Homo sapiens: one gene and its partner. The protein of the gene in region 1 interacts with the protein of each later gene in a pairwise test. Each region holds a gene or a part of one and is shown on either strand. Other genes may lie near its edges.

What was found.
Region 2: the proteins of DEPDC1B (region 1) and EBPL interact in a two-hybrid assay, tested with the Homo sapiens proteins (one large-scale study listed by BioGRID and IntAct).

What each region holds. Positions count from the first base shown.
Region 1 is NC_000005.10:60,693,611-60,697,438, reverse strand, and holds part of DEPDC1B (DEP domain-containing protein 1B), read left to right. Parts: intron 1-3,828.
Region 2 is NC_000013.11:49,670,947-49,674,774, forward strand, and holds part of EBPL (emopamil-binding protein-like), read right to left. Parts: intron 1-3,828. UniProt on the Homo sapiens protein: Does not possess sterol isomerase activity and does not bind sigma ligands.

The DNA of each region.
Region 1 (3,828 bases):
TCTCCCTTTTCCCATCATGCTCATTCTAAACTTTCTTCAGGGGAAGCTTGGTAAAAATCTATTGGGATACAAAAACTAGGCCTTTATTTTCTCCTTTCATGGCTCACTTTACTTTCTCAAAGCATGTACAGCTTTAGAAAAAGCTCTTTGGTGCTTTTTCTAAAGCACCAAAGTCTTATTTGAAAATAACATTTTGTGGATTAGGTAAAATGTTATGACAAAAGTCAAATGACAGCCCCAACTCATGATAAATGTGAAGCTAGTTATCCATTTATACATTTTCACTGAAATAACTTTCATCTTTGTAAACTTGGTATAAATAGTTCATTCAAGTAGAGAGAAAAATTTTTTTTCTAGAAACTGCTTAAATCTTTGAACTTATTCTGAGTTATATATATGGTCTGATGCAACTGATAAATTTTAAAAGACATACAGCTTTCATTGAATCTGAGAGTTAGAATGGCAAGATCACACAACGAGGTTGTGGCAAGTGCAAGTAGATCTAGGAGTGGTTGTCACTGAACTCCCAGACCAGTCAGTTTTCTTTATAGCACCGCTATCATAATATTTTTGGTACTAAGAAGAAATGAAATGGAATATCCTGGAGAAAAGAACAGGATGCACAGCAGTAGGTGTATGTCTTATAGTTTGCCTCATCATGTTAAGAAAAAACAATTGTGTGATTTTATTTTTTCCTGAGAAACTAGGGGACTGAAATTAATAAGTAGAGCAAAACAAAAAGTGTTTTAAAATCATAAAACAAATCTGTTTTGTTCCATTTGTTGTAAAGATTCTCTTCAAATATAATGTCATGAAAAAAAAACTCAAGCTCTTTCTTGTTATTTATTGACAGAGGATATTTTGTTTCCAAAAGTGACTGAGAATGGTATATTGTTAGATTATTTAAAGATACTTATTTTTCTTTCTGAGCAGAGTAGCCAAATAACCCCTTAGTTATATTTGGAAATAAGTGGGAACAGAGACCAAAGTGACCTCAGTAGGCTTTAAAAAATCTAAAGTATTTCATATATTAAGGAAATATAACCCATAATGATAAATGCCATTCAAAATCAAAATGAGTAAATTCAAAAGTCTATTTATAAATGCTCTTTTTAAAAGGGGCAATGAGACTTTGATAAAGATGTTTTATTAGACATTTTCTAGTATGAAATAAAAGTCAGTAGCAATAGAGCAGTTAATCCATTCTGAATCCTAATGGATTTTTTTTTCCTGTGTGGGAGAATGCAATGAATTGAAAGCTCATGCTGAAGAGTAAAATTCTGAGAACTGAAAAAAGTTTTCCCTCACAAAAAGAAATGAACTTCACAAAAAGAAATTTTCACGCTGGGTGCGGTGGCTCATGCCTGTGATCTCAGCACTTTGGGAGGCCGAGGCGGGTGGATCACGAGGTCAGGAGATCAAGACCATCCTGGCCAACATGGTGAAACCCCGTCTCAACTAAAAATACAAAAATTAGCTGGGTGTGGTGGCACATGCCTGTAATCCCAGCTACTTGGGAGGCTGAGGCAGGAGAATCACTTGAACCAGGGCGTCGGAGGTTGCAGTCAGCCGAGATCACGCCACTGCACTCCAGCCTGGGCACCAGAGCGAGACTCTGTCTCAAAAAAAATAAAAAAAGAAAGAAGTTTTCACATTCCCTTACAAAGAAGACAGGGGCCTTGTCCTACCAGGGATTTATACTTGGTATTAATTGACTGTAATGACAACTGTATGGTATTACACAGGAACAGATAGTCGCTCAGTGGGATAGAAACAATCAAGAAGTGTGATATGTAAGGTTACTTAATAATATTTCTGTTCATTTAGAAAAGCATGGCATAATTGACTCTTGATATGGTTTGGACGTTTATCCCCTCCAAATCTCATGTTGAAATGTAATCCACAGTGTTGGAGGTGGGGCCTAGTGGAGGTGTTTGGGTCACTGGGGCAGATCACTCATGAATGGCCTGTTGCTGTCCTCATGACAATGAGTGAGTATTCACTCTGAGTTCATGTGCGATCTGATTGTTTAAAAGTGTGGCACCCTGTCCCTCACTCTCTCTTGTTCCCCCCTTGCTGTGTTATGTGCCTCCTTCTGCCTGCTTCCGCTTCACCTTCTGCCTTGAATAAAAGCTTCCTGAGGCCTCACCAGAAACTGAGCAGATGCTGGCACCATGTTTCTTGTACACTCTGCAGAACCGTAAGCTGATTAAACCTCTTTCCTTTATAAATTACCCAGTGTCAGGTATTTCTTTACAGCAACGCAAGAATGGACTAACACAACTCTCCATCCAGAAAAAAATAGAGATCCCCTGCCTCCCACCATATAAAATTCAGTTAAAGGTTTACATATTAAAAAACATACCCTCTAAAATATTAAAAGGAAATTTTGATAAATATTTTAATACCTCAGGATAGGGAAGCTTTCTTAAGAGAATAAACCCTGAACTGATAAAGAAAATAGATAATTATTTCCTTATAAAAACATCAACATCTACAACAAAATCATTGTATAGCTAGAGACTATGTAAAGAAATTGATAGGCTAAGATAAAACATTTGTAACATATAACAAAAAGGTTTAATATTCTATATTCATCAGTACATATTAAATGGGTATACTATATGTCAGGCACTGGTCTTTGTTGTGAGGATATTGAGCTGAACAAAATCGATTAACTTTCCTGACTTCTGTGCCCTTTAAACATTAACAGATTAAACAGTTCTTAAAATTGATTTTAAAAAAGAGATAACCCAATAGAAAAATGGCAAATCTCAGAAGAAGAAATGAATATGACTAAAGGTAAAGATATGAAAATGCAAACAAAATATGGATCTATCATTTCTTTTACATAGATTGGCAGAAATGAAAGAAATGATAACATCTAGTGTAGGCCAAAGTGTAAGGCTTTAGGCTCCCACATTGTTGGTGGAAGTGTGAATTGCTACAACTGATTTAAATATGCTGATACTTTTTAGAAGTCTATCAAAAGTAAACAAAAGCCTTGGTACTTTAGGTTATATAAACAAGTATAACTTGTAACATATTTGTAAAAATTGAACTGGGCAGAACTTGGATGACCATTTGTTAGAAAATGGCAGAATAAATTATGGCACATTCTTAAGAATGGGCTAGATCTGCAGGTATGACGCAGGGAGGTATCTGTTAGGTGCAAAAGCGTGTTTTAGGATAACATATACAACATGATTGATCTCATTTTTTAAAATGGCAAACAACAATAAATGACACACCTACAAAGGAAAAATTCTGTCTATGTGTCTGTATGTGATAGGTATGGAGTAAGACATGCAAACTCTTTTGTGTATACTTCTGTATTTAATTTGTTTGTTTCAATGAGTGTTATTACTTCTGTAATTAAAAGAACAACAGAACTGCTAACCAGACTGGGTCAATTAGTGGATATACCTAGTGATATTTGGAAATATTGGGTCCCAGAGAGCCATGCCTTCATTATGTTTATGTAATGCATAAGGTATTATGCATTAGGTAATTTTAGTTCATGATTATGATTGTTCAACCAACATAAACAAAAATCTTTTTTATTACCCCTTCCCCCGGCCCTACATACTTGATTATGCCTTTTCGGTACAACAATCTAATGATAAATGAAAGCTAGGTATCAGGGCATGTATTAAAAAAATCAATAATCAATGATTAAAAATATGTGAAAATTGTTTAAAGGTATGGTAATATCCATAGGTACTTGGTATAGTGAAATGACTACTTGAAGAAAAGTCCGTAGCACAGGATTCCAGATCTTATTCACAGACTAAGTACCTGAATGACATTTGCTAAGTTGTGTATCCT
Region 2 (3,828 bases), on another chromosome or scaffold:
TCTAAACATATTTGTTTTCCCTGTTTTATCTGTAACTGGATTCTAAAAGCTGAAAAAGCCAATTAACAGCATTTACAATGTTGTGATTATGGAAACAGCGTTCACTGTAATGGGCCACAATTTCTTTCCTTAGGGATCCCGTATCCTGACTCCTGTGTCATTTAAGGATAATGCTGCAAATGAAGTATCCTTTGTTTTCTTTTTCTGAGATAGTCTCACTCTGAAGCTGAAGATAGGCTGGAGTGTGGTGGTGCAACCTCAGCTCACTGCAACCTACGCCTCCCGGGTTCAAGCGATTCCAGTGCCTCAGACTCTCAAGTAGCTGGGACCACAGGCGTGTGACACCACATTCAGCTAATTTTTGTTATTTTTAGTAGAGATGGGATTTCACCATGTGGGCCAGGCTGGTCTTAAACTCCTGGCCTCAAGTGATTTCCCCACCTCGGCCTCCCAAAGTGCTGGGATTACAGGTGTGAGTCACCGTGCCAGGCTCCAAAAATCATATCCCTTAAAGGACATTAAAAAAATCATATGAGAAAAATAGCTGTGTTTTTAACAAATAAGTACTCCCCAGTCCACTTACTTTGCAACACTTTATTTTTACCAGCCAATTTTTTATTTTTAGCAGAGCCATAGGGTGAAATCCATACCACTTCCTTGCTCTGGCCTGAGAACTTTCTACACAAAGCACATCCACTGGGCTGGCCAGTGGGGCAATGGGGCTGGACTGGATTTGACCCTCTCTAGGCCTCAGGCCATCTATCTGTAAGATGAAGGACTTCCTTCCTATAGATTGTAAATCTCATCCTAAAACGAAATGCAACCTCCACTGGCGACCTCTTTCACTGGACCCATTAGTAAGATGTGGAGTCTGACACCAGGTTGCAGACCTTTCCACAGAAGCAACTCTGGGTAAGAGCAAGATGGGGAACTGGAAATCAGTAACATGCAGGAACCTATGAGTCTATAACAAATCCGTTTCCTTTTACATCTACTTGTTGAAGCTCTACTCATTTTTCAAATCCCAGCCCTAACCCCCTTCTTCAAGAAACCTTCTTTGACCTCCTAGTGAGAATTAATATCTCACTCTCCTAAATCTCCCATGTGGCTAAGTTTGTTTCTGTAACCAGCAGCTATCTGCTCGCTATGGACCCCCAGCTCCCATTGGATCACACATCATTGGGATCTGGAATACTGTCATCTCTACCTTAGAATCCCCAAGAAACATGACATTTGTGTTCCGTGTTTGCTAACCTTGAATTAAGTTCATACAACAAATTACTTATAAAGAAGGATGCCCTGAAGAGGCTTTTAGACTGCCCTATCTCTTACTGTATTAATGTCCTAAATGTAAAGATAGTATAATACATATCAAGTGTAACGAATATTCATGCCTTCAAATGCTGATCAGGTGTCACCTCCTCCAGGAAGCAAGATTTTACTATTCTCCTGCTGGGAGGTCAGTGCCCTCCTACACAGAAACTTGCTCACTTGTCTCTTCCCAAAACTGCCAGTTCTCTGAGGGCCAATTCTTTCTCTTTTATCTCTGTATTGCAAATGGCTAACACATAGAACATGCTAATAAGCGTTTCCTAAAAGAGTAAGAAATAAAAGGGATAATAGAAAACAAGACAGTTAAAAATAATAATAACAATAATAATAATCTGGTTAGAAGATGGGCAAAAGAAATGAATAGACATCTCACCGGAAAGTACATAAAGATGGCAAATAAGCACATGGAAAGATGTTCAACCTCATTAGCCACCAAGGAAACACACCTTCAAGCCACAGTGAGGTATGACTGTATAAACTATCAGAATGGCTAAAATAAGGTTGGGTGTGGTGGTTCACGCCTGTAATCCCAGCACTTTGGGAGGCCTGGGCGGGCGAATCACGAGGTCAGGAGTTTGAGACCAGCCTGGCCAACATGGTGAAACCCCACCTCTACTAATAATACAAAACAATTAGCCGGGTGTGGTGGTGTGTGCCTGGAGTCCCGGCTACTTAGGAGGCTGAGGCAGGAGAATCGCTTGAACCGGGAGGCAGAGATTGCAGTGAGCCGTGATTGTGCCACTGCACTCCAACCTTGGCGACAGAGTGAAACTGTGTCTCAAAAAGAAAGAAAAGGAAAGGAAAGGAAAAGAAAGGCTAAAATAAAAAATAGTGGCAACATAAAAAAATACTGGCAACATCGAATACTGGTGAGGATGTGGAAAAACTGAAACAAACACAGATTTCTGAAGGGATAGAAGCGATACAGCCACTAAAAAAAACCAGAGTTTGGCAGTTTCTTCTAAAACTAAATATGCAATGACCATACGACCCAGCAATTCCACAGTTGGGTATTTCTCCCAGAAAAATAAAAACTTATCATCTTTATACAAAAACAACTACACGAATGTTCATAGCAGCTTTATTTGTGGTAACTAAAAACTGATGTCCTTCAAAAAGCCAATCCCAAAAGCTTACATAATGGTTACATTTATTTTTATTTCTGTATTTATTTTTTGAGACACAGTTTCACTCTGTTGCCCAGGCAGGAGTGCAGTGGCTCGATCTTGGCTCACTGCAACCTCCACCTCCCATGTTAAGGGATTCTCTTGCCTTAGCCTCCCAAGTAGCTGGGATTACAGGAATGCACCACCACGCCCACCTAATTTTTGTATTTTTAGTAGAGATGGGGTTTCACCATGTTGGCCAGGCTGGTCTCGAACTCCTGACCTCAAGCGATCCACTCGCCTCAGCCTCCCCAAGTGCTGGGATTACAGGCTTGAGCCACCATGGCCAACCCTGTGGTTACATTTATATAACATTTTTCTGAAATGATAGATTTTAGAAATGGAGGACATTGTTAGTGGTTGCCAGGGGTTAAGGGATGGAGGTGTGGGGTGGGGGGATGTGTAGTTATAAAAGGAAAACACTAGGGATCCTTGTTAGTGCTGGAACTATTCAATACCTGGGCTGTTGTGGTTGATATATGAATCTACCCAGTTGATACAATTATATGGAACTTAATACACACACACACACACACACACACACACACCACACAAAGAAACTGACAGTCTGAAAAAGATCAGTGGACTGTATCAATGTCCATATGATGGTTATATTATACTATAGTTTTACAAAATTTTTGGTACCAAAATTATCAAAATAGAAAATAACTTTTTCTTTTTTTAGACAGAGTCTTGCTCCCCAGGCAGGAGTGCAGTGGTGCGACCTTGGCTCATTCAACCTCCGCCTCCTGGGTTCAAGCAATTCTCCTGCCTCAGCCTCCCAAGTAGCTGGGGTTACAGGTGCCCGCCACCATGCCTGGCTAATTTTTTGTATTTTTAGTAGAGATGGGGTTTCGCCATGTTGGCCAGGCTGGTCTTGAACTCCTGACCTCAGGTGATCCACCTGCCTTGGCCTCCCAAAGTGCTGGGATTACAAGTGTGAGCCACTGCACCTGGCTGAAAATAATTTTTTAAAAACCCACCAAAATGTTAGCATCGTGGAAACCTGGGAAAAGTAAACAAGGGACCTCTGTATTATTTCTTACAACTGTATGTGAATCTACAATTACCTCAAAATAAAAAGTTAATTAAAGAAACAGAGAAAGACATGGGAGAAAGAGTACCATGACTAAATGAATGGGCTTTTTTTTTTTTTGGCAACTGTCAGGACTTAAAAAAAAAAATTTAGAATAGGCCAGGCTCTGGCCTCAGAGAGCTTATTGTCTAGTTGGATAACAATGACTTCCAATTCAATAAAGGATGGAGGAAGATGAGGGAGCTGTAGCTGAGGCAGTGAGGAAAAATTTCAGAGGGAGGCAGGCTGAGAGGT